Homo sapiens: one gene and its partners. The protein of the gene in region 1 purifies or fractionates together with the protein of each later gene. This does not show direct contact. Each region holds a gene or a part of one and is shown on either strand. Other genes may lie near its edges. The genes, in order: UNC5CL, POM121, IGF1R and NUMB.

What was found.
Region 2: the proteins of UNC5CL (region 1) and POM121 purify together in Homo sapiens (affinity purification with mass spectrometry; 2 studies listed by BioGRID and IntAct, with this or other methods). This does not show direct contact.
Region 3: the proteins of UNC5CL (region 1) and IGF1R purify together in Homo sapiens (affinity purification with mass spectrometry; 2 studies listed by BioGRID and IntAct, with this or other methods). This does not show direct contact.
Region 4: the proteins of UNC5CL (region 1) and NUMB purify together in Homo sapiens (affinity purification with mass spectrometry; 2 studies listed by BioGRID and IntAct, with this or other methods). This does not show direct contact.

The regions. Positions count from the first base shown.
Region 1 is NC_000006.12:41,029,215-41,036,245, forward strand, and holds part of UNC5CL (UNC5C-like protein), read right to left. Parts: intron 5,922-7,031; 5' UTR 5,861-5,921; coding exon 5,476-5,860; intron 4,968-5,475; coding exon 4,667-4,967; intron 3,933-4,666; coding exon 3,670-3,932; intron 2,924-3,669; coding exon 2,822-2,923; intron 2,535-2,821; coding exon 2,467-2,534; intron 1,542-2,466; coding exon 1,441-1,541; intron 1,288-1,440; coding exon 1,174-1,287; intron 1-1,173.
Region 2 is NC_000007.14:72,928,064-72,935,094, reverse strand, and holds part of POM121 (nuclear envelope pore membrane protein POM 121), read right to left. Parts: intron 6,711-7,031; coding exon 6,630-6,710; intron 5,156-6,629; coding exon 4,984-5,155; intron 1-4,983. UniProt on the Homo sapiens protein: Essential component of the nuclear pore complex (NPC). The repeat-containing domain may be involved in anchoring components of the pore complex to the pore membrane. When overexpressed in cells induces the formation of cytoplasmic annulate lamellae (AL).
Region 3 is NC_000015.10:98,959,520-98,965,042, forward strand, and holds the end of IGF1R (insulin-like growth factor 1 receptor isoform 1 precursor), read left to right. Parts: 3' UTR 1-5,011; downstream 5,012-5,523. UniProt on the Homo sapiens protein: Receptor tyrosine kinase which mediates actions of insulin-like growth factor 1 (IGF1). Binds IGF1 with high affinity and IGF2 and insulin (INS) with a lower affinity. The activated IGF1R is involved in cell growth and survival control.
Region 4 is NC_000014.9:73,287,526-73,294,556, forward strand, and holds part of NUMB (protein numb homolog), read right to left. Parts: intron 5,350-7,031; coding exon 5,209-5,349; intron 1-5,208. UniProt on the Homo sapiens protein: Regulates clathrin-mediated receptor endocytosis. Plays a role in the process of neurogenesis.

The DNA of each region.
Region 1 (7,031 bases):
TTGCACACACTACACCCACAGCCACCTCTGCTACTCCCCAAAACAAAATGGCTGATCTCTTCCCCATCACTTCCTCCCTGAAGCCCTTTCTAGTTCACCCCTCCCAGGTGGAAGAGAACATTCTGCATCCCTCAGTTCAGACTTCTGGTCATAACGCCCGCAGTTCATTATTATTCTTGCTTCAGCTGTTTTCTGTCTCTCTTCAATGTGTTATACAATACTGGATTCTTACAGGAAGGCACAAGGAACACTTGCCTTTATTTTTCAAGCTCTCTGAACCCTTTACTAGTGTGTGCGCTCCTAGGCGCCGGGACCATGCCTCATTCATCTTGTATCATAGTGCTTAGCACAGTTTCCAGGGCATAATAGGTACTTGATAAATGTTTAAATGAATGATTTAAAAATCCACCCTGTAGTTTGCAGACCAGCCTGGCCAACCTGGTGAAACCCCGTCTGTACTAAAAATAAAAAATTAGCTGGACATGGTGGCGTGTGCCTGTAATCCCAGCTACTCGGGAGGCTGAGGCAGGAGAATTACTTGAACCCGGGAGATGGAGGTTGCAGTGAGCCAAGATTGCGCCATTGCACTCCAGCCTGGGCGACAGAGCAAGACTCCGTCTCAAATAATGATAATAATAATAAATAAAAATCCACCCTGTTTTCAGGGTCCAGCTCTAGCCCCATCACCAGGATAAAGTCTTCCCTGACCGCTGCACTCATAGTGTAGTTTCTGGAGCTTAGCTCAGTATTCTCCTGCTTTCTGAGTTCCTTGACAGGGATCATGACTGCACTGTCACCATTATTGATAACATTTATTGAATTAACAAGTGTCAGGCACCCAGCTACATGCTTTACACACATTATCCTATAATCTGTCTTGCTCCTCCTCAGGGCATAGCATGGCAAGCACTCAACATGTACCAAATAACTTCCATGTTAATGGATTCACTGTTAAATGTTAATTGAGCACCTACTATGCACCAGGCATCATTCTAGGTACTGATGATACAGTGATTAATAGAGCTGCCCTTTTATGGGAAATAGGGTGGACAGTAGCCATTCTCTGACTTTTAAGTCACTCCCTTGCCTGTGATCCAGTCTCCAGAGTGTCCTGAGGAACCCCATTCCAGCCCACCCTCCTCTACCATCCACAGACCTCACCCCTCTTCCTACCGGATCTTCATGCCGCAAAGCCCCAGGTGGGAGGCCAGTCTGCGCCAGTCATTGCCGGTGATGCTGTTTGGCTCCAATAACATCCGCAGCTGCTCAAAGAGCTCTGGGGGCAGCCTTAGGCAGGGAAAAGGGTGTTCTTGGAAGAAAGGGACAAACAGACCCACTCTGGTTCTCCCATATGCACCCTAAATGCTGTAGTCACCCTGTGGGTGCCAGGGTAGGAACCCAACATCCCCCAGGCAGCAGCCCAAGCAACCCCCGTCTCACCTATTGCATGGGGGCGGCTGGGAAACAGGTGGTGGCGCTGCCCAGGATTCCTCCTCTGATGCCTGGAATCTGAGGATTTCCATATACTTGGTCTCCAAGCCCTGAGTCAACACAGGGCAGGGAACACACTTAGGGGTCACAAGCCATCCCCCTGAGTAAGAAGCTGGAGTCCTACCTCCATTCCTCATGTCTCTCCTTCAGTCTGTCACTCAGAGCCACCTTACCAGGAGATACAACCCTGCTCCACCCAGCACCCTCTACCCACTGTCTCCCTGTGACTTCAGAACCGCACCTTCAGCCTTATGTTTGCCCCTGAGCTCTTTGGGAACTGGGACATGAAGACCAGAGTGCAGCCTGAGCCACCAGGGGAAGTCCTGGGTGGGGCCGTGGAGCAGTGGGAGGTCATCCAACCATAGAGACACTGATCTCAGCCATATGTGTACCTTCCTCCATTCCAACCTTCCCTTCCTCTTCTCCAAGTGACAACAGGGTATCTGCCTGCCCTCCACTAAGGTGCCACTATGGTTCCCCAAAGACTCTCAACTCCGATTTCTTCGCATCTTCCCTTGGTGCAGCAGGAGAGGAGAGATACCTAACTCCCAGCCTGCCTACTCAAGACCCTCTTCCTGGTCACTTCCCACACTGAAAATACAAAACATCATCTCTCAAATCCCACACTGAAGATACCAAACATCATCTCTCAAATGTAGACAATCAGCCTAGAAAGAAACCATATCAACTTGATGCCCCAGTTCTCTGAGTTGGGAGAAGGGGTTAAACTAGGGTTTGGTTCTTTTAGCTTCCTGCTGGATTCATCCACCGATAGACAAGGAGAGTCAGGGATGAGGGTAACTTGGAGCCCAGATGATCTCAGCCCCTCAAAGAGCTGGTATGGGGGCTCTATGGAAAGTGCCATCTTTACCTATGTGATTAAGACCATAGTTACTGGGCACCAGACCCTGTGCCCACTTTGCCTAGGATTTCCCCCAGGCCCTGCCCTTCCTCTGCCCCTCAGCTCCAACTCACATCCTGGAAGGTGTGCATGGTGACAATGATCTCATTGGTTAGTGCTGAACAGTCCTCATTCTCATCGGCTATAAAGAGAAGGTGACAGCGTGGCCAGTGAGTGAGGAAACGGCCTGGGGTAAGAGCAGGAGAAGGTAAGGGACTCTATAGTAAGACTTGGGAAATCTGAGGAAGCTGGGGTCCAACACTCCATTTTTCTCTCTGCAAAGATCTGTGTGGCTCCTGGCCTTTCAGGGAAGGTCTGTGTGCATGGCTGCATGGGGGTCTGCAGAGCTCCAGGGTTACTGGGAGGGAAGGAGAGGAGACAGGATGGGAAAAGAGAGGGGAGGAGGTACACACAGGGCTCCCGGACTACCTGCTTTTCTCCGGAAGCAGAAGGAGCGGAAGGGGCACTTTCCATGCCAGATGTGGAGATGGGGAACCAGCTGGCAACTGCTGTCATCCACATTCTCCCAACCTGGTGAGTAGGCAGACAGCAGAGGGCCTCAGAGAGTGGGGCCTTAAACAAGTATTGAAGGGGGCTGTGGGGAGGCATGAGGACAGAACAAAGGCAGGAGGGTCTCAAGGGAATGGGAATCCCCAGAGCCTGGGCTGGGACCCCAAGAGGGCCCTTGCACTATAAAAGCCTTCCATCCTTTCCTGCTTCTGTGGGGTATAACCCCTCTCCTTCCCACCTGCCACCTGGCATCACCCTGTCCAAGGAGTGAGTGGCAAGGGCTCAGTAGACAGCAGAGTGGTCAAAGCCCTGGGGGCTCCATGAGGCTACTGCTGGCCCAGAGGTCACAAACAGACTTGGGGCCTGGTGTGGTGGCTCACACCTATAATCCCAACACTTTCAGAGGCCGAGACGGGTAGATTACTTGAGGTCAGGGGTTCGAGACCAGCCTGGACAACATGATGAAACCCCGTCTCTACCAAAAATACAAAAAAATTAGCCAGGCATGGTGGTGGGCACCTGTAATTGCAGCTACTCAGGAGACTGAGGCAGGAGAATAACTTGAACCCAGGAGGCGGAGGTTGCTGTGAGCCAAGATCAAGCCACTGCACTCCGGCCTGGGCAACAGAGCGAAACTCCATCTCGGGAAAAAAAAAGAGAGAGAGACTTGGGATCCCCAGATCTCCAGATGTCCAGGGGAGGCCCAGAACCCTTCATTCCTGTGGGGCTCCCGATCATCCTATCCCACAGGCCACTGCCTCCCTCACCCTCTGAGATGTACGTGAGCTTCAGGCACTGGTCGCCCCTAGCCCCATTGAAGTCGAAGAGCTGGCAGGGCCCACGCAGGCGCCCACCATGGGGCTGCTCGTTGGTCAGTGCCCACTGCAGGGCGCAGGGCGTGTTGTTGAGGAAGTAGATACGCAGTTGCAGATGGGACTGTCCTGGCACCAGCGGTGAGCAGAATACGGCCAGCTGCAGCCATTTGCGGGCTTCGCGCCCCACAGGTGCCTCCAGCACACAGGTGTAGAGGCTGCAGAGGGAGCCAGTGGCAGGCACTAATGTGCAGGGAAGGCTAAGACACCAACACACTGCCACCAGCCTCCTGCCACCTGAGGGGCCTCTGTGGGGCCTTCAAGGAGGTTCAGAGAACACTCGAGGGGAGCACTTAGGGAGGAACTGGTAGGTTGGGGATGAAAAGTGAGCATGTCACAGTGACTGGTGACTGAATGGGGAGGAGAGCTGGCAGGGGAGAGAGGGAAAGTGGGCTCAGGGTGACCATGCTTGGGAGGGCACCCGCACATGGCCCTATTCCTGTCAATGGGTGGCAAGGAGGCTGGGAGGCAGAGGACCTAGGACTCTAGAAAGACAAAGAGAAGAAGGACAGAGATGGAATGGAGTCTTAGAGAACTGGTGCTAAGCCTGGGGACAGTCCTGAAAGGGGCACAGTGTAGAGAGAGATAATTTGAAAGACAGAGAGAGATGGGAAAGACAGGTCCCTCTTAGATGGAGAGATGGTGCTGAGTCAGACACTTCCAGACAGACAGAGAGACAGCAATGGGATTTGCAGTCATGGACATGATTGATGTGAGAAAAACTGCTACAAACATTAGGACAGAGGGGCCAGAAAGAGACACCAGGGGATAAAGGATTTGCAGACCATCTTCTATACAGAGAGATGAAGATAAGGCAGACAGAGAAAGTGGGCAGGAAAGACAGTCCTCAGAGAGATGGGTGTGGGAAGACAGGCCAATGGCATGTGCCTACCTGAAGTGGGAGAGGTGGATGCGACACTCATCCCGGGAGGCGTGGGCCCCCGGCCGCCCCAGGGGCCTCCATACCTTGGCATCCAGCAGGGTAGTGTTGCTGCTGTAGGTGCGAGCATGGCTGGGCTGCTCGGCACAGTGTTTGAACGTGAGAGTGCAAGGCTTCAGGAAGGAGGCCCCATGGGGGCCACATGCCACCACAGGGCTTACCAGCCCCTGGGCTTGGGACAGCGATGGGGCGTCCGACAGGTCCCACACCAGGATCAAAGACACCCGCTCCTGGCGGCCCACAGCCACAGCACCTGGCAGGGAGAGGGAGAGCTGAGATGGGCCTGGTAGGCAGGCACACCCCTGCCCCTGAAAGAGGCCAGGCCAGAGAGAAAGGAGGTGGGGCAGGAGCCCAGGAGAGACCCCCAGCAGGGCACACAGGGAAGTGGTATGAACAAGAGTAAGACGACTGTGGAGCTGACTTGTAGTGTAACCCTAAGCAAGACACTTCCCTTTCCACCCAGGCTGCTGCTAGCCCATAGTGTGCCTTGTGTGAATTTGCAAATGGTGCTCTTCCCTCCCTTTACTAGAGAATTGTCACAGCATACTGATTCATTAGAACAAGGCACTTTACTTCCACCTGCCAGGAAGTTGTCCCAAAAGATATGTAATATGTCCATCCCTGAAGTCAATAAAGCTATACTCAAAATATAAACAATTATCAGAAGTAAAAGGTGTCTATGAACATTGCTCCCTCAGATGTGGTGACCTAATGTACAGTCTGACCAACTGTATGCGGAGATGAGAGCCAGGAGCTGTTACCTGGTGGGATGAGCAAGGAGATGCCTGTATCCTGGAGCATCAGGCAACCGCCGCGGTGATCCACCTCTCGAGCCGAAAACACCAACAGTTTGTGCATCAACTGGCGGACCATGGTCTGGCCTTGAGTGGGTGTGTGTAGCTCCTGGTAGAAGGCAACCATCTCTGGCAGTGTGGCTGGCAGGTGCTGCCTTGAGACCTCATTTTCTAGTTGGGGGGTAGGCTGGGACACTGGTTCCTCTTGACCATTCAGTGTCCAGCAGGCCCCCAGCAGCCTTCTAGGGCAGTGCCATCGAAGGCATTGGGCCAGAAGGAGGACACTTGCCACTGGGACCCCCACCAGCAGTAGGAACTGGGAGGGTTGGAATGAACTCTCCTGGGGGCACATTCGCCTGGTTACTCAATGCCGCTGGCTCTCCTTCACCCCTGTGCCAGCCAAAGCCAAAGGCCTGGTGGGGAAGAAGGGGTCAGTGTCAGGGTAAGCCCTTTTAAGTTGTGGAGGTCAAGGCTTGGCTTACACATAGCTGCAAGTTGTCTTCATTCCAGCGCACACTGCACACTTTAGTCACACCAATTCTTTTAACCTGTCTCTCTTACTCGAGAACCTACCCTGGCTCCCCGTGACCTAATACATCAAGGTAAACTGTTCTGAAGCAGAGTGAGCTTGGGTTTACAGTTAGAGAACATGAGTTCAAATGTCACCTTGGTCACTGTGGCTGGGTAAACTTATCATATTGATGTAAGGCAGGAGAGCCCCAAAATTGGGGCTTAGTTTGGGAGGGTTTGTGGCTTCACCTAGGCAAGAATTCAAGGGTGAGCCAGTGGTGTCAGACAGCAACTTTCACTAAAGTGGCAGAGTATAGCAGCAGCAGAGGTATGCTCCTTACAGAGCAGAGCTAACCCTAGGCAGTGTGCCCAGGGTAGCAGCTCTGGGGCATTTCTGCCATCATATTTATGTCCACTTTTAATTACATGCAGTAAGGGGTGGGTTATTCAGAAATTTCTAGAAAAAGGAGTGGTAGCTTCGGGTCACTGCCATGGAAAGGGGCAGTAACTTCCAGGCATCGCCATGGCAGTGGTAAACTGTCATGGCACTGGTGGGCATGTCTTATGGAGAGGTGCTTTTGGTGCCTTTTCCCTGTTTCAGCCAGTTTTCTATCTGGCCTGGAATCAAATCCCACCTCCTGCCTCAATACTGCTTAATGTACCTCAGTTTCCTCATCTGTCCAAATATCTACCTTGATCTACAAGTGCTGATACAAAAAAATCTATAAGTGGAAAAAGCAAGTCGCAGAGAGATAAAATATTCTGAGCTCATTAATGTGAAAAACAAAACTGCATATAAATAGATACATATTTATGGGTGCATATATGGAAATGTAAAGGTATAGAGAAAGGTCTGGAGCAGTGGTGTACAATAAAAATGTAATGTGAACTACACATGTAATTTTAAATTTCCTGATGGCCACATTAAAAAGAACAGGAGAAATTAATACATTTTATTTAACCCAATATATTCAAAATGTTATTTCAACAGGTAATCGATATAAAATTATGAG
Region 2 (7,031 bases), on another chromosome or scaffold:
CAGTAGATGAAAGGCAATCCCAATCAGTATCTCAGAACTTTTTTTTTTTTTTGTGGAAATTGACAAGTTGATCTAAAAATTATATGAAAATGCAAAAGGCCAAGATACAAGACAGTCCTGAAGAGAAATGAGAAAGTGGGATGACTGACTCTATCAAGACTTAAAGTATAAGGCTAGGGGTAAAACAAAGACTGGCACAAGGGTAGGTAGAAAAATAGACCAATGGAACAAAACAGAGTCTAGAAATGGACCCACATATATACAGACACTTAAATTAGACAAAGACGGTGCTGCAGAGAAATAAGGATGGTCCTTTCAATAAATGTTGCTAAGAGAAATGGGTATTTCTACAGTAAAAAACAACAACAACAACAACAAAAACCACCAACACCACCAAACACAAAAAAAACTAATTTTGATTCCAACCTCACACCATATACAAAAATTAATTTCAGGTGGTTTATGGATTTACATATAAAAGTAATAATAAAATAATAAAGCTTCTAGAAGGTAGCACAGAAGAAAATTATCATGACCTTAGGTTAGGTAGGCAAAGATTTCCTGAATACTACACAAAGTATGCTAACCACAAGGAAGTAGAATGGCAAGAGCAGGACACTTTTTTGTTGCAACACATACATGACAGACAGCTTGTATCTAGAACATATAAAGAGCGTATTCAAATCTCTAAGAAAAAGACAACAACTTGGGGCCAGGTGTGGTGGCTCACGCCTGTAATCCCAGCACTTCGGGAGGCCAAGGCGGACGGATCACCTGAGGTCACGAGTTCGAGACCATCCTAGCCAACATGGTGAAAACCCATCTCTACTAAAAATACAAAAATTAGCCGGGCATGGTGGTGGGTGCCTGTAATCCCAGCTACTTGGGAGGCTGAGACTGGGGAATTGCTTGAACCCAGGAGGTGGAGGTTGCAGTGAGCCAAGGTCACAGCACTGCACTCCAGCCCGGGCGACAGTGCGAGACTCTGTCTCAAAAGAAAGAAAAAAAAAAAGACTGTACAGTAAAAAGTAAATTTCCTTTTTATCTCAGTAATGATTGCCAGTTTTTAATATATCCTGTAAGAATTATTTTATGCATATTAAAAGATTTTTAAAAGCCCGAATAATAGAGGATACTATACAGTTCTGAGCCTTGTTTTTATGTAATTGCTTTTTGAGATCATTCTCATGAGTACTTCTTCAGTTGCCTTATTCTTTTTCATAGTTACATAGTATATTCCAACTTACACCAATACTGTAAGTTATTCAGTCAGCTCCCTGAAAAGATAACATGTACATTGTTTCCAAGCTGCTATTATTAAAACAATGTTACATTAAATCCTTGTATCCATTTCCCAGTATGTGTGTAGGATAACTTCCTAAAGGTAAAGCTGCTTGATCAAAGGGTGCATGTATCTCTTATGTGGACAATTCCTGTCACAAAGCCCTCTAGAGAGCTGTACCAACTGACACTCCCACCAGCAACGCGTGAGGAGCCTGTTTCTTCTAACACTGCACTTCTATGGTTTCTATTTTACGTTCAAAACTTTGCTTCATTTGGAATAGGTTTCTCTACTATAGGAAAAACTCTTGAACATGAGATTTGGCTGGTAGCCCTTCAGAAAAATGGGTAAAGGATATGAACTAAGACTCATGGAAACAGAACTGAAAATAATCATTCAACATATGAACAGATGATCAAACTACTCATAAGAGACAAAAATTAGATACCTTTTTTTCTTTGAGACAGAATCTCACTCTGTCGTCCAGGCTGGAGGGCAGTGGCGTGAGCTCGGCTCACTTGACCTCTGCCTTTCAGGGTCAAGCAGTTCTCCTGCCTCAGCCTCCCAAGTAACTGGGATTACAGGCACACACGACCACGCCTGGCTAAATTTTTTGTATTTTTAGTAGCAACCGGTTTTTGCCACGTTGGCCAGGCTGGTCTCAAACTCCGGATTTCAGGTGATCCACCTGCCTCAGCCTCCCAAAGTGCTGGGATTACAGGTGTAAGCCACCAAGCTCGGCTGGCTTTTTTTTTTTTTTTGAGACAGAGTCTCACTCTGTCGCCCAGGCTGGAGTGGAGTGGCGCTATCTCTGCTCACTGCAACCCCTGCCTCCCAGGTTCCTGATATTCTCCTTCCTCAGCCTCCTGAGTAGCTGGGATTACAGGCATGTGCCACCATGCCCAGCTAATTTTTATGTTTTTAGTAGAGACAGGATTTCACCATGTTGGCTAGGATGATCTCGAACTCCTGACCTCCAGTGATCTGCCTTCCTCGGCCTCTCAAAGTGCTGGGATTACAGGCATGAGCTGCCACGCCTGTCTTAGATACTATTTTTAACCTGTGAAATTGGTAAAAGCCCAGAGCTACAATAACCAAATCTGCTGGTGAGGCCATGGAGAAATGGTCCCTCTCATACAACGCTGAGGGGAATGCTGAGTGGTGCATGCTCTGTAGGGGGATTTAACAATATCCAGCAAAATTACATGCGCATTTAACCTTTGACCTGGGAATCTGACTTCTAGGAACTTTCCAGAGGCAAAATTGCCAAGGATGAAATGACATATGAACAAATGTATTCTTTGCAGCATTATTTGTGATAGCAGAAGACTGAAACAACCCAACATTTGTCAACAGAGGACTAAAGTACCTATGCAGTTTTAAGACCAAAGATGAGTTTCTGTGTACTGCTATGGAATGACCTCAACTATCTATTATGTGAAAAAGCAAGGTTCAAATCTGTATATACTGTCTACTACCTTAAATGTTAGAAGGTGGCGGTTTTCAGATACACTGATATGCATACCGTTTAAAAAACAATAAAGGATAATCAAAAAATAAAAATGGAGAGGAAGGAAAAATGTAGAGTGGAAAGGGATGGAAACTGAATTTTTGAGTGTATCTTGTTTTAGTGTATTTTTTTTGAAACAACTTATTGTTTCAAAGATTTTACATAATTTAAAACAGAACTATTTCAAAAAGGAAAACACAGAAATCCCTGTAACTTTCAAACATACTGAACAAACGAACCTCACTGTATATAAAGTTGGTGTACCCAAAGGACAATTAACATTACTTTAAAACACGATATATTGATTACATGTCCGTAGCATTCACACAGGGATATAAAGACAAATGAATCACAATTCTTAAACTGACTTCAGCCGTCTTAATAATGACAGTGTTAACAATGACACTGATACCGCTATTTTGAAATTGCATGGGCCAGGCGTGGTGGCTCATGCCTGTAATCCCAGCACTTTGGGAGGCCAAGGTGGGTGGATCACCTGAGGTCACGAGTTCGATGCCAGCCTGGCCAACATGGTGAAATCTCGTCTCTACTAAAAATACAAAAATTAGCTGGGCATGGTGGCGGGCACCTATAGTCTCAACTACTTGGGAGGCTGAGGCAGGAGAATCGCTTGAACTCAGGAAGCGGAGATTGCAGTGAGTCAAGGTCGCACCACTGTGCTCCAGCCTGGGCGACAAGAGTAAGACTCCGGCAAAAAAAAAAAAAAAGAAATTGCGTGTTACTAGGATCAAAGTAATTATAAACCGACATTTTTGGTGTAATACATAAAAATATAAAATCAAATAAATTACATAAAAAATCCTACTATCATAAATTTGAATTTGGAATATTATGAATTATTTATATTCCCCTTTCTAGAGGATCTGTCTATCTTATCTCTCCTAAAACTTAGACTGTAGTCTCTACAGTTCTAACTGGAAGAAACCAAAGCTTTCTGAAGAAACACCCAACTTCGGTATAGGCTAAAAATGGACTTTGGGAAGGTGGGCAAAAAGCAATGAAGCTATCTGTCGAAGACTGCTGGGATCAAAATAAAGGATACAGGAGCCAGTTTGGAACCCATAGTCCAAAGCTGGAAAAGTTTGCATATCAAAAATAATAACTAGATATTAAATAATATTAATTATCCCTCTTAAATTATTAAGAGGGATAATGATATTACGGTCATTAATGTTCATTTATATGACTGTCAGAGCCTTCTGGGCTGATGAACTCGTCTCAAAATCTTCCTCCTCTCAAAAACATTTCTCCATACATGCTTTACATCTTTTTGTCTGGCTGCTGTATACTGGGTACCCACTTACTGACAGCCACTGTAATAGGTGCTTTTTAAATATTACCCTCAATCACTGCAACAGCACTTCAGAGATAAGAAAAAGAGATGTTATGTGATTGTCTGCCCAAGACCTTATAGCTACTAGATGTCAGAGCCAAGCATTTTTTTCCTTTTCTTTGAGACACAGTCTTGCTCTGTTGCACAGGCTAGTCTTGAACTCCTGGACTCAAGAGGTTCTCCCACCTTGACCTCCCAAAGTGATGGGATTACAGGCATGAGCCATCCCGCCCAGCCTCAGAGCCAAGATTTGAATCTAAGTCTGTCCAGCAGCAAAGCCTGCCCTGTTCCCTATACTATGCGATAATCCCTTTTCCAAAAAATCATGACCACTTGTTTAAAAACCCCGCTTTCAATTCTAAACGCCTATAAGATAAATCTCTTTTACGACCCAATACAAGCTGGACTCAGTCTACCTTTCGAATCACCCTCTGTCCGTTTATCTACAACACAGCTCTGTCTCGAATCAGCTCGCACACATGCACTGCTGTACATTCTGGGCTTTCTACTCCATTCCGCTGGCCTATATTGATCACTCAATGATCTGTATTTTCTATTAGCTTAAAGACAATTCTAATGTCTGACAGATAGAAGGTGATCAGTAAACCTTTGCTAATCAATTACTTTATTTAAAAAATTTTCTTTAAAAATTCTTTTGTACAGACAAGGTTTCACTATATTGCCCAGGCTGGTTTTGAACTCCTGGGCTCAAGCAATCCTCCCGCTTTGGCCTTCCAAAGTGCTGGGATTACATGGCTAAGCTACCATGTCTGGCCCTAGTCAATGAATGAACGCTGGGAATTCATGTCCCCCACATTAAAAGAGCTGTACTTGTACCTGTGAGATGCCTCGAGTGGAGCTGTAGGAACTGGTAATGGCATTGCGGCTGGAGCTAGGGATGCCACTTGCGTAAGCGCCTGTCAAGGAGCTCATGGAAGAGCTTCGGGATCTCTTATTCAAGTGGTCATCTGAGCTCTGAGAATTGAGGCCTCTCTTCAGAGACCCAGGCCTAATAAAAGAGAAGACAGTTAGATGCTTTATTGAAGGCAAAATTCTTTTACGATTTCATCCACGGTCATGACATCTTTCTTAATAACATGAAGGGAAGAGAATAATGCTTTTAATTTTTACTGCTAACAATCTGGCCAAATCTATCTGACAAAGTCAGTAAGAAAAGCCAAATATTTAAAACTTAAATGTATGATTTCCATTTATAGAATATTCTGGAAAATGCATACCTATCTACAGTGACAGAAGACAGATCAGTGGATGCCTGGGAACAGGGGTGGAAGTAAAGAGAGGGATTACAGGCATGTGGGAACTTTTGGAGGTGAAGGATGTTCATTATCTTAGTGGTGGGATGGTTCCACAGGTGTATGTGTGTCAAAATGTCACATGCTTTAAACAAGTACGGTCTATTTTATGTCAATTATATCTCAACAAAGCTATTAAAAAAAAATCAGAGTTAAGAGGAACCCATCATTTTACTAAACCTCCAATGGAAACAGAAATCTCCTACGCATCTTTTCTGTAGGACAGTCATCCAACCTGTTACAATATAGACAACTCTCTCCTAGAGTGACCCACGTCAACCATGAACCAGTTTATTCTTACAGTGGATTACAGTGTATTTCCTCTTTCACCCACGGATCCTATTTGAAGTCAAACAGAGCAAGTTATTTTGCTTCTTTCAAGGGACAGTCCTTTGGTTTTTTGGAGACCATTGTCCTTCCCTCACTTATTTCTTTATTCCCCCTGAGACTTTTCTCCTCTGGGCTAATACTTCCATACCTCCAAAACCCCAACATCCACCACCACCCCTTTGGGCTGTTGCAAATCTCCTTAACATCTTCATTGCTTCACTGGGAATGAATTTCCGTTTGTGTACATCCTCCCTCGCAGTGCAGTACACTGATCTGACCACAGTGCTCCACGGACAGTGAGCAGAACTACGGAAGGCAGGAATACCATCCACCTGCCTCATTCTAGTCTTTCTTCTAACAGCACAGACCAGGAGCACTTTAGCTTTCCTGGCGGCCACATCACACTGCTGACTCAGATGAGGTACCTAAGGTATCCTAAGTCTTTCCACACATACTTTTGAGCCACTTTCCTTTCCACCCAATTCTTCCTCCAATTTGTTTTTAAACTGACATGTAGAAATTTAACATTTAGGTTTCATACTGTTTTATCCACTGCACAAACTTTGCAATCCTTCTGTGTATGTGCTTGGTTATTAAATATATTTATAAAACCTCTTAAGTCTCAGCATATTTCATCCATATTAATGCAAGAACATTAAAAGGAATTAGACAGAAGGCAGTTAACTGTGGCAAGTTACTCAAAACGTTCCTAATTTCAAAGACGTGAACCTGAACCAATTAAGCAATGCAAAAAACAAAGAGGAAAATCTATAGGGCAACAGCTCTGATCAGGCCTTTTTCCAAACAGTTGGTATTTCATCCGGATGGACTCCCACTTACTTAGGCACAAAAGAAGCGGGGACTCCATTGGCCACCAGGGGCTCAAATGCTGAATGTCCACTGCCACTGCTATCATGGCGCCTGCGACAAATCAAAAAAGTCTCAATGAAATGACATGACTTTTTTTGTCCCTTTAAAGTGTATTCTCATATTTCTGGGACCTTATACTATCTCTATGGAGCACAGATTCCATGATAGACCAGAAAATGGTTGTTTAAAATCCCTAAGCTTCTGAAAGGTAAATTTTTTTTTTTTCAGACAGAGTTTCGCTCTTGTTGCCCAGGCTGGAGTGCAATAGCACGATCTTGGCTCACTGCAACAAACCTCTGCCTCCTGGGTTCAAGCGATTCTCCTGCCTCAGCCTCCAGAGTAGCTGGGACTACAGGTATGCACCACCACACC
Region 3 (5,523 bases), on another chromosome or scaffold:
AGCACAGACGCCACGGTGGCCCAAGAGCCCCTTTGCTTCTTGCTGGGGGACCAGGGCTGTGGTGCTGGCCCACTTTCCCTCGGCCAGGAATCCAGGTCCTTGGGGCCCAGGGGTCTTGTCTTGTTTCATTTTTAGCACTTCTCACCAGAGAGATGACAGCACAAGAGTTGCTTCTGGGATAGAAATGTTTAGGAGTAAGAACAAAGCTGGGATACGGTGATTGCTAGTTGTGACTGAAGATTCAACACAGAAAAGAAAGTTTATACGGCTTTTTTGCTGGTCAGCAGTTTGTCCCACTGCTTTCTCTAGTCTCTATCCCATAGCGTGTTCCCTTTAAAAAAAAAAAAAAGGTATTATATGTAGGAGTTTTCTTTTAATTTATTTTGTGATAAATTACCAGTTTCAATCACTGTAGAAAAGCCCCATTATGAATTTAAATTTCAAGGAAAGGGTGTGTGTGTGTGTATGTGTGGGGTGTGTGTGTGTGAGAGTGATGGGACAGTTCTTGATTTTTTGGGTTTTTTTTCCCCCAAACATTTATCTACCTCACTCTTATTTTTTATATGTGTATATAGACAAAAGAATACATCTCACCTTTCTCAGCACCTGACAATAGGCCGTTGATACTGGTAACCTCATCCACGCCACAGGCGCCACACCCAGGTGATGCAGGGGGAAGCCAGGCTGTATTCCGGGGTCAAAGCAACACTAACTCACCTCTCTGCTCATTTCAGACAGCTTGCCTTTTTCTGAGATGTCCTGTTTTGTGTTGCTTTTTTTGTTTTGTTTTCTATCTTGGTTTCCACCAAGGTGTTAGATTTCTCCTCCTCCTAGCCAGGTGGCCCTGTGAGGCCAACGAGGGCACCAGAGCACACCTGGGGGAGCCACCAGGCTGTCCCTGGCTGGTTGTCTTTGGAACAAACTGCTTCTGTGCAGATGGAATGACCAACACATTTCGTCCTTAAGAGAGCAGTGGTTCCTCAGGTTCTGAGGAGAGGAAGGTGTCCAGGCAGCACCATCTCTGTGCGAATCCCCAGGGTAAAGGCGTGGGGCATTGGGTTTGCTCCCCTTGCTGCTGCTCCATCCCTGCAGGAGGCTCGCGCTGAGGCAGGACCGTGCGGCCATGGCTGCTGCATTCATTGAGCACAAAGGTGCAGCTGCAGCAGCAGCTGGAGAGCAAGAGTCACCCAGCCTGTGCGCCAGAATGCAGAGGCTCCTGACCTCACAGCCAGTCCCTGATAGAACACACGCAGGAGCAGAGTCCCCTCCCCCTCCAGGCTGCCCTCTCAACTTCTCCCTCACCTCCTTCCCTAGGGGTAGACAGAGATGTACCAAACCTTCCGGCTGGAAAGCCCAGTGGCCGGCGCCGAGGCTCGTGGCGTCACGCCCCCCCCGCCAGGGCTGTACCTCCGTCTCCCTGGTCCTGCTGCTCACAGGACAGACGGCTCGCTCCCCTCTTCCAGCAGCTGCTCTTACAGGCACTGATGATTTCGCTGGGAAGTGTGGCGGGCAGCTTTGCCTAAGCGTGGATGGCTCCTCGGCAATTCCAGCCTAAGTGAAGGCGCTCAGGAGCCTCCTGCTGGAACGCGACCCATCTCTCCCAGGACCCCGGGGATCTTAAGGTCATTGAGAAATACTGTTGGATCAGGGTTTTGTTCTTCCACACTGTAGGTGACCCCTTGGAATAACGGCCTCTCCTCTCGTGCACATACCTACCGGTTTCCACAACTGGATTTCTACAGATCATTCAGCTGGTTATAAGGGTTTTGTTTAAACTGTCCGAGTTACTGATGTCATTTTGTTTTTGTTTTATGTAGGTAGCTTTTAAGTAGAAAACACTAACAGTGTAGTGCCCATCATAGCAAATGCTTCAGAAACACCTCAATAAAAGAGAAAACTTGGCTTGTGTGATGGTGCAGTCACTTTACTGGACCAACCCACCCACCTTGACTATACCAAGGCATCATCTATCCACAGTTCTAGCCTAACTTCATGCTGATTTCTCTGCCTCTTGATTTTTCTCTGTGTGTTCCAAATAATCTTAAGCTGAGTTGTGGCATTTTCCATGCAACCTCCTTCTGCCAGCAGCTCACACTGCTTGAAGTCATATGAACCACTGAGGCACATCATGGAATTGATGTGAGCATTAAGACGTTCTCCCACACAGCCCTTCCCTGAGGCAGCAGGAGCTGGTGTGTACTGGAGACACTGTTGAACTTGATCAAGACCCAGACCACCCCAGGTCTCCTTCGTGGGATGTCATGACGTTTGACATACCTTTGGAACGAGCCTCCTCCTTGGAAGATGGAAGACCGTGTTCGTGGCCGACCTGGCCTCTCCTGGCCTGTTTCTTAAGATGCGGAGTCACATTTCAATGGTACGAAAAGTGGCTTCGTAAAATAGAAGAGCAGTCACTGTGGAACTACCAAATGGCGAGATGCTCGGTGCACATTGGGGTGCTTTGGGATAAAAGATTTATGAGCCAACTATTCTCTGGCACCAGATTCTAGGCCAGTTTGTTCCACTGAAGCTTTTCCCACAGCAGTCCACCTCTGCAGGCTGGCAGCCGAATGGCTTGCCAGTGGCTCTGTGGCAAGATCACACTGAGATCGATGGGTGAGAAGGCTAGGATGCTTGTCTAGTGTTCTTAGCTGTCACGTTGGCTCCTTCCAGGGTGGCCAGACGGTGTTGGCCACTCCCTTCTAAAACACAGGCGCCCTCCTGGTGACAGTGACCCGCCGTGGTATGCCTTGGCCCATTCCAGCAGTCCCAGTTATGCATTTCAAGTTTGGGGTTTGTTCTTTTCGTTAATGTTCCTCTGTGTTGTCAGCTGTCTTCATTTCCTGGGCTAAGCAGCATTGGGAGATGTGGACCAGAGATCCACTCCTTAAGAACCAGTGGCGAAAGACACTTTCTTTCTTCACTCTGAAGTAGCTGGTGGTACAAATGAGAACTTCAAGAGAGGATGTTATTTAGACTGAACCTCTGTTGCCAGAGATGCTGAAGATACAGACCTTGGACAGGTCAGAGGGTTTCATTTTTGGCCTTCATCTTAGATGACTGGTTGCGTCATTTGGAGAAGTGAGTGCTCCTTGATGGTGGAATGACCGGGTGGTGGGTACAGAACCATTGTCACAGGGATCCTGGCACAGAGAAGAGTTACGAGCAGCAGGGTGCAGGGCTTGGAAGGAATGTGGGCAAGGTTTTGAACTTGATTGTTCTTGAAGCTATCAGACCACATCGAGGCTCAGCAGTCATCCGTGGGCATTTGGTTTCAACAAAGAAACCTAACATCCTACTCTGGAAACTGATCTCGGAGTTAAGGCGAATTGTTCAAGAACACAAACTACATCGCACTCGTCAGTTGTCAGTTCTGGGGCATGACTTTAGCGTTTTGTTTCTGCGAGAACATAACGATCACTCATTTTTATGTCCCACGTGTGTGTGTCCGCATCTTTCTGGTCAACATTGTTTTAACTAGTCACTCATTAGCGTTTTCAATAGGGCTCTTAAGTCCAGTAGATTACGGGTAGTCAGTTGACGAAGATCTGGTTTACAAGAACTAATTAAATGTTTCATTGCATTTTTGTAAGAACAGAATAATTTTATAAAATGTTTGTAGTTTATAATTGCCGAAAATAATTTAAAGACACTTTTTTTTTCTCTGTGTGTGCAAATGTGTGTTTGTGATCCATTTTTTTTTTTTTTTTTTAGGACACCTGTTTACTAGCTAGCTTTACAATATGCCAAAAAAGGATTTCTCCCTGACCCCATCCGTGGTTCACCCTCTTTTCCCCCCATGCTTTTTGCCCTAGTTTATAACAAAGGAATGATGATGATTTAAAAAGTAGTTCTGTATCTTCAGTATCTTGGTCTTCCAGAACCCTCTGGTTGGGAAGGGGATCATTTTTTACTGGTCATTTCCCTTTGGAGTGTAGCTACTTTAACAGATGGAAAGAACCTCATTGGCCATGGAAACAGCCGAGGTGTTGGAGCCCAGCAGTGCATGGCACCGTTCGGCATCTGGCTTGATTGGTCTGGCTGCCGTCATTGTCAGCACAGTGCCATGGACATGGGAAGACTTGACTGCACAGCCAATGGTTTTCATGATGATTACAGCATACACAGTGATCACATAAACGATGACAGCTATGGGGCACACAGGCCATTTGCTTACATGCCTCGTATCATGACTGATTACTGCTTTGTTAGAACACAGAAGAGACCCTATTTTATTTAAGGCAGAACCCCGAAGATACGTATTTCCAATACAGAAAAGAATTTTTAATAAAAACTATAACATACACAAAAATTGGTTTTAAAGTTGACTCCACTTCCTCTAACTCCAGTGGATTGTTGGCCATGTCTCCCCAACTCCACAATATCTCTATCATGGGAAACACCTGGGGTTTTTGCGCTACATAGGAGAAAGATCTGGAAACTATTTGGGTTTTGTTTTCAACTTTTCATTTGGATGTTTGGCGTTGCACACACACATCCACCGGTGGAAGAGACGCCCGGTGAAAACACCTGTCTGCTTTCTAAGCCAGTGAGGTTGAGGTGAGAGGTTTGCCAGAGTTTGTCTACCTCTGGGTATCCCTTTGTCTGGGATAAAAAAAATCAAACCAGAAGGCGGGATGGAATGGATGCACCGCAAATAATGCATTTTCTGAGTTTTCTTGTTAAAAAAAAATTTTTTTAAGTAAGAAAAAAAAAGGTAATAACATGGCCAATTTGTTACATAAAATGACTTTCTGTGTATAAATTATTCCTAAAAAATCCTGTTTATATAAAAAATCAGTAGATGAAAAAAATTTCAAAATGTTTTTGTATATTCTGTTGTAAGAATTTATTCCTGTTATTGCGATATACTCTGGATTCTTTACATAATGGAAAAAAGAAACTGTCTATTTTGAATGGCTGAAGCTAAGGCAACGTTAGTTTCTCTTACTCTGCTTTTTTCTAGTAAAGTACTACATGGTTTAAGTTAAATAAAATAATTCTGTATGCATTTCTGTCTCTGGTTTGGTTTTGTCCCTCCTGGAAGCATCACTACACTTTGGTGGCAGGGAAGCTGAGCTATGTGGGGCACGTGTGTTCACGCATGTTGCCTGGAAGCGTTCTCCAGAAAAGCATTGCCTCTTCTCTGACAGCTGAGCTTTCTCAGCATGCAGATTGCCAGTAAAGACGACAGGGAAGCTATCTGTTTCTCCCTCCATTAAATCATCTGGAAAGAAATTTGAATACATAAATTACGAAACTCTGTACTGCAGTTCCGACTGATTTGTAGACTTTTTTCCTATACCTTCCACTAACAACAGTCAGGCCAAGGCAAGTCTGATCTGCATGACCCCAAGGCAGAGGACTTCAGTTCTTCACATTTCCCATGTGCTTTTTGGTCTTTCACAGCTGACATGCCCACCTCGGGGGGATGCTGGTGAGAACCCAGTGGGCCTCACGCAGAATGTGGGTCACTGGAGGAGCTCCAAAGTCCTAGTTACTTTCTAGCTGCTGCTCAGTGAT
Region 4 (7,031 bases), on another chromosome or scaffold:
CACCACCACACCTGGCTAATTTTTGTATTTTTAGTAGAGATGGGGTTTTGCTATGTTGGGCAGGCTGGTCTCCAACTCCTGGCCTCAAGTGGTCTACCCAATTCAGCCTCCCAAAGTGCTGGGATTACAGGCATGAGCCACCACACTCGGCCCAAATGTCTGTTTTTATGAAAGCAAGATGTTGCAAATTCCAGCTTAAAATTGTTTTAATAGATTAGTATGCCATATTAATTTAAATGAATAAATTTTCTAAGGTAGTGCTTATGATGGTTCAATTCACTGTTACAAGCCTTGGGGTAAAGTGATAACCAGCAACCTGTGCTTTTGTAAGCAGCCATGGAGAACTCTTTATCACTTAGGCTCTGTCATGTCAGCCCTGGCCAACAGCTTAGAAGACTCTATGCAAGGTTTCAAGCCTTGACATGCAAGCTTCTAGTTGCCCTTTGGGGAAGCAGTGGGAATATTTACCAGCCACTTCTAAGAAACTACTGGAAAGGCAAGGCAAATTTCAGGAGCTTAATGCACTGTTAATATGTCTAGGAAAAAAAGGTGCAAACTTAAAACTTCTGATAAACAAATATAATTCCAGTGATTAAAAAGGAATGAGGCTGGGCATGGTGGCTCACATCTGTAATCCCAGCACTTTGGGAGGCTGAGATGGGCAAATTGCTTGAGCCCAGGAGTTTGAGACCAGCCTGGATAACACAGTGAGACTCTGTCTCTACCAAAATAATAAAAAAAATTAGGCCAGGTGCGATGGCTCACACCTGTAATCCCAGCACTTTGGGAGGCTGAGATGGGTGGATCATGAGGTCAGGAGCTCGAGACCAGCCTGCCCAACGTGGCGAAACCCCGTCTCTACTAAAAATACAAAAATTAGCCGGATGTGGTGGCGGGTGCCTGTAATCCCAGCTACTTGAGAGGCTGAGACAGGAGAATTGCTTGAAGTCGGGAAGTAGAGGTTGCTGTGAGCTGAGATGGCGCCATTGCACTCCAGCCTGGGCAACAAGAGCAAAACTCCGTCTCAAAAAATAAATAAAAATCAAAATAAAGGCCGGGCACAGTGGCTCATGCCTATAATCCCAGCACTTTGGGAGGCTGAGGTGGGCGGATCACCTGAGGTCAGGAGTTCAAGACCAGCCTGACCAACATGGAGAAACCCTGTCTCTACTAAAAATACAAAATTAGCCAGGCATGATGGCGCATGCCTGTAATCCCAGCTACTCGGGAGGCTGAGGCAGGAGAATCACTTGAACCCAGGAGGTGGAGGTTGCAGTAAGCCACGATCGTGCCATTGCACTCCAGCCTGGGCAACAAGAGCAAAACTCCGTCTCAAAAAAAATAATAATTAAAAAAAAAGAAAAAGAAAAAATTAGTCGAGTGTGGTGGTGGTGTGTGTCTGTGGTCCTACTTGGGAGGTGGGAGGATCACTTAAGCCTACAGTAAGCTCTAATTGTGCCACTGCACTCCAGCCTGGGTGACATAATGAGACCCTGTCTCAAAAAACAAACAAACAAACAAAACTAACAATGAGACAAAAGCTTTGCTGTCTCCCCTTTCTGAATCCCCCCTCTAAGCAACCCTCCTCATTTATGGCCCTCCGTGCTTTTAGGTTTTCCCCCATACCCTTCCTATCTTCCTCTAGCTCTAATTCCCAACTCTACCTCCCAACCAAACACAGGCAAAAGTGAAAGCATGTTTTCATCCACACTGTCTACTTATAAAAGAATTAAGCAGATAAAACTGGTTTGTGTATGGGAGGAGTGGAGGACGTATATAAACAAAACACTGCTTTATATAGATACACTGGATTACCCAGAGTCAATTTAATAAATTCAATGGATGATTTTTAGCAGGGTTATCTGTATTTTAGACCATTTTGCTAATTGTGGAATAAAAAAGCTAGAGATGGTACAATAATTGTTGGCATCATTCACAGTGAGAAGAGATATTTGGGAACAGGAAGTCTTTTGTGGTGTTCTCAAAATCACATCACGTAGGCAGCTGCTCCTACACACGGCTCTGAACAAGTCGTCTCACTGGATTTTGCATGACAGTATTAGTTATCATAAGGACAGGTAAGGTTTAAAATGCTTTATGTCCCTAAGATTTTACTACCTTTGACTACTTTTTAAAAATTTTTAAACTTTTTAAAAAAACTTTTGACTACTTATTTAAAGACTGATAGAATTACTCTATGAATCCACATGAGTTTCCATCTAACTTCCCAGTAGGATGACATTAGGCCAGATGTTAAAGCATGAAACAGGAGTACTGAAAGATTCTTAGAATGTGTTTGCATTTGAACGCAGGTCTATTATAAGGACAGAGCTACAGGTCAAGGAAGCTTGCTTATTCTTTCTCCTAGGCCTAGGGCAGAAGTTGTTGAAGAGTGACCTCATCCCCAACCAACAGCATCATCTGGGAACATTTAAGTGCAAATTCTTAAGTACCAACCCCAAACTCACTGAATGAAAAACGCTGGAGATGGGGCCCAGCAATCTATGTTTTAAAACAAGTCCTCCAGGTGATTTTGATACAGTAGAACTATTGGCCTAGGAGATTCAAACAGGCTGCCGGGCCACTATTTGACAACAAAATGGTTTTTAAGTTATTATCTGGAAACTCTTGAACTCCAGATTTTTAAAGTGTAGTGATAGCAAAATATACCCAGTTTGTGGTTTACTTAGGGTCTGAGAAACAGAAGACAAAAGCACAGTTTTGTTACTTCAACTCATTTCAAAGCACCTGTGTCAAACCAATGAAGGACAGCTTACACAATATTCGCTAAAATTTTTGGAGTAATGTGGCCCAGAACCTATGCTAAGTGTGCTTATAATCTTTATCCAATTTAGTATTCACAACCACTTTCTCCATTTATAGAAGTGTATACCAAGACAGAGAATGTTAAGTAACTTGCCCCAAATCCCACAGCTAGTAAGAACCAGAATCAGAACTGAAACCCATATCTGACTCAGAGCCTGAGCTCTTAGCATTTGTTTACACCAATGTCTCAAAGATCTTTAAACAATTTTGGTCAATTTTTAGACCATGGCCACTACTTATCTTCCAGATTAAACGTTGGCAAGAGCTTTACTGACCTGTAACCTTCACGAATGGCTATACTGCCTATTCTGTCTCGACACTTGCTGTACATACAGTTTGAGTATCTCTTTTCTGAAATGCTTGGGACCAGAAGTGTTTCTGATTTTAGATTTTTTTCAGATTTTGGAATATTTGCATTATACTTAACAAGCTGACATCCCAAATCCGAAAAGCCAAAATCCAAAATGCTCCAATGAGTATTTCTGTTGAGTGTCATGTCGGTGCTCAAAAAGTTTAGAATTTTGGAGCATTTCAGATTTTCGGATTTGAAATGCTCAACTTATAGTAAAATCATTGTCATTTAAAAGAGACTTGTCTTTCATGTTAAAATGCTGGGTAATTTACATAAAGAATGAAATTATTCTCTATTTTAAAACAAAACTTCTATCATGCAACAATTTCTAGCGTTGTTCATTCTACCGTAACTTAGTATTTCTGTTTAGTTTTTGTTTTTTGTTTTTTTTTTTTGAGATGGAGTCTTGCTTTGTCACCTAGGCTGCAGTGCAGTGGTGCAATCTTGACTCACTGCAACCTCTGCCTCCTGGGTTCAAGCGATTCTCGTGCCTCAGCCTCCTGAATAACTGGGATTACAAGCACCCGCCACCACAGCCGGCTAATTTTTGTATTTTTAGTAGAGACAGGGTTTCATCATGTTGGCCAGGCTGGTCTCCAACTCCTGACCTCAAGTGATCTGCCCACCTCAACCTCCCAAAGTGCTAGGATTACAGGCGTGAGCCACCGTGCCTGGCCTATTTTTGTTTTATTTTTGAGACGGAGTCTTACTGTCGTCCAGGCTGGAGTGCAGTGGTGCAATCTTGGCTCACTGCAACCTCTGCCTCCGAGTTCAAGCGATTCTCCTGAGTCAGTCTCCCAAGTAGCTGGGATCACAGGCATGCGCCACCACACCTGGCTAACTTTTGCATTTTTAGTAGAGACAGGGTTTCACCATGTTGGCCAGACTGGTCTTGAACTCTTGACCTCAGGTGATCTGCCTACCTCGGCCTCCCAAAGTGCTGGGATTACAGGTGTGAGCCACCATGCCCGGCCAGTATTTCTTTTTTCTTTTTTTTTTGGCCAGAGTCTTGCTCTGTCACCCAGGATGGAGTCAGTGGCACAAATCTCAGCTCACTGCAACCTCTACCTCCTGGGTTCAAGCGATTCTTCTGCCTCAGCCTCCCGAGTAGCTGGGACTACAGGCATGCACCACCACGCCCAGCTAATTTTTTTGTATTTTTAGTAGAGACGGGGTTTCACCATATTGGCCAGGCTGGTCTTGAACTCCTGACCTCGTGATCCGCCTGCCTCGGCCTCCTAAAGTGCTGGGATTACAGGTGTGAACCACCGTGCCTGGCCGGTATTTCTGTTTTTATAATAGTTGAAAGTATACTCCAACTCAGTTTTGTTTTTTTGTTTTGTTCTGTTTTTGGAGACAAGGTCTCACTCTGTCACCCAGGCTGGAGTGTAATGGCACGATGACTCACTGTAGCCTCCAACACCTACGCTCAAGTGTTCTGCTCGCCTCAGCCTCCCAAGGCATGTAGAATGTAGCTAGGACTACATGCATGTGCCACCATGCCTGGCTAATTTTTTCTTTAACTTTGTAAAGATGAGGTCTTGCCATGTAACCCAGGTTAGTTTCCAACTTGTGGTCTCAAGTGATCTTCCTGCCCTGGCCAAAGTGCTGGGATTATAGGGGTGAGCCATCAGGCCCAGCCAACTTCTTTCATTTGTAGTAGTCTCTATGCAAATACATTTTTAATACCATACTCATATATGTTAGCCAACAAATACATTTAAGAACCCTGAAAATACTTCCAATAATTAAAAGTTTCAAATAAAGTTTAGCAACCACTATCACCAGACCATTTTTACCTTCCTTTAATGATCTTTGGTTTCAGCCAATCATTTTGTTCAGTGAGTTGCAACTCCTGGGGTTACATCAAGAGTGTGAACTATTTGAATAAAAGGAGCTGAAAGTAGGCTAGTTTAGGCACTTCCAAGTACTTGTTAAAAATGTAGTAGAAACCGCTTGGCTGAGCAAACCCAGAAAGAGCCCAGCTAACTGAGAATACTCATCATGAAATACATATTTGCTGGACTCACTGTGTCCTTGACAGCCATGAAGCAGTGACAGATCCAGCGACGAGTGGTGCCATCACGGCATATGTAAGAAAAGGCTCTATCAAAGTTCCTGTCTGGGGCACAGAAAGAAACTTTCTCTATCGTCTGGTCAACTATGAGGTCCTAGAAAATACGACACACAAAGAAAGAGAAGACTTATGAGGTTATCTGAGCTTCTCAGAACACAGGATGTTCATTTCATGATGCACAATCCATACATCTGATACAACTAGGCTATGGAATACCTAGATCTGTGTCCAGCAGTTTAAATACTGAGAATTGGACTCAGCAGACATCCCAAGAGGCACTTTGCCCAGATACCTCTCTCAACTACATGTTCTAAAGCATATGCTTGTTGATTCTAGTTTTACATCTCTTTCATGGTAGATTCCACATTCAACAATATATGTAAATCAGTATCTTTAATCCTTTGGATAAAAAAAAAATCCTTTGGGTTTATTCCCAAATATAAGCAAATACATATAATAGTCATGTTTATGCTAACTTCGTTACACAATGAACACTACACACACATACACACAGTTCTGCACCTTGCTTTTTTACATTATATATACCCGATCCAGTGAAGTTACTTCAGATACTGTATTTTTCAGGTGTGGAATTTCCACTCGTTTCTTTTTCTTTTTTTTTTTTTTTTTTTGGACAGTCTCACTCTGTCACCCAGGCTGGAGTGCAGTGGCGCGATCTTGGCTCACTGCAACCTCTGCCTCCCGGGTTCAAGCAATTCTCCTGCCTCAGCCTCCCAAGCAGCTGGGACTACAGGCGTGTGCCACCACGCCCGGCTAATTTTTTTGTATTTTTAGTAGAGACAGGTTTCACTGTGTTAGCCAGGACGGTCTCAATCTCCTGACCTCATGATCCACCTGCCTTGGCCTCCCAAAGTGCTGGGATTACAGGCACGAGCCACCGTGCCCAGCCATTTGTTTCTTTTTCATAGTTTCTATTCTCTGCCAAGATTTCTATCTCTTCATTCAACATGAACATATTTCCTTTCTGTCACTGAGTATAGTTATAATGCCTTCTATACACTGTTTTCATTTCTGTTAAGGTAGCAGTCTACTTCAGTGTACCATTTTCTGTACTAGTTGTGGTGATGCTATAAACACAAAACAATACAATGACTCAAATACAAGAGACATTTATTTCTTGGTCAAATAGTGAAGGCGGGCATTTAAAATCTGTCTGCTAATTCCAACATCTGAGTCATCTTGAAGTTAGGTCTTTATTGATTGTTATTTTGATGAGAATAAGTCAGACTTGTCTGTTTTGTTGTATGCTGAGTAACTGCATTGTAGTCATTGTGAATGTTGTATGTGGAAAGAATGGATTCCGTTACATTCCTTGGAAGTGTCATATTTTTGGTTTTATCAGGTAGCTAATTTGATTATACTCAAATGGAAAACTCTTATCTTTTGAACAGCACCTCAGACATCAGGGCGTTTTTGTTCTTTTTTTGAGACTGTCTTGCTCCGTCATCCAGGCTGGAGTGCAGTGGCGCAATCACTGCTCACTGTAACCTCAACTCCAGGGCTCAAGCATCCTCCCGCCTCAGCCTCCCGAGGAGCTAGGACTACAGGTGCATGTCACCATACGTAGGTAATCAAATATCAGTTTTTATATCCTTAGTTGGGCTATTTGGAGTCTGCCTTGAATCTACATGGCTAAAAGGGTCAGAGATTTGGGCAGAATTTATGAACAGAATTTGGGACTACTCCTTTTTGGCTTACTCATTTCCAGGATTCTCTTTTTACTTTCTTTTTTTGAGATAGTCTTGCTCTGTCGCC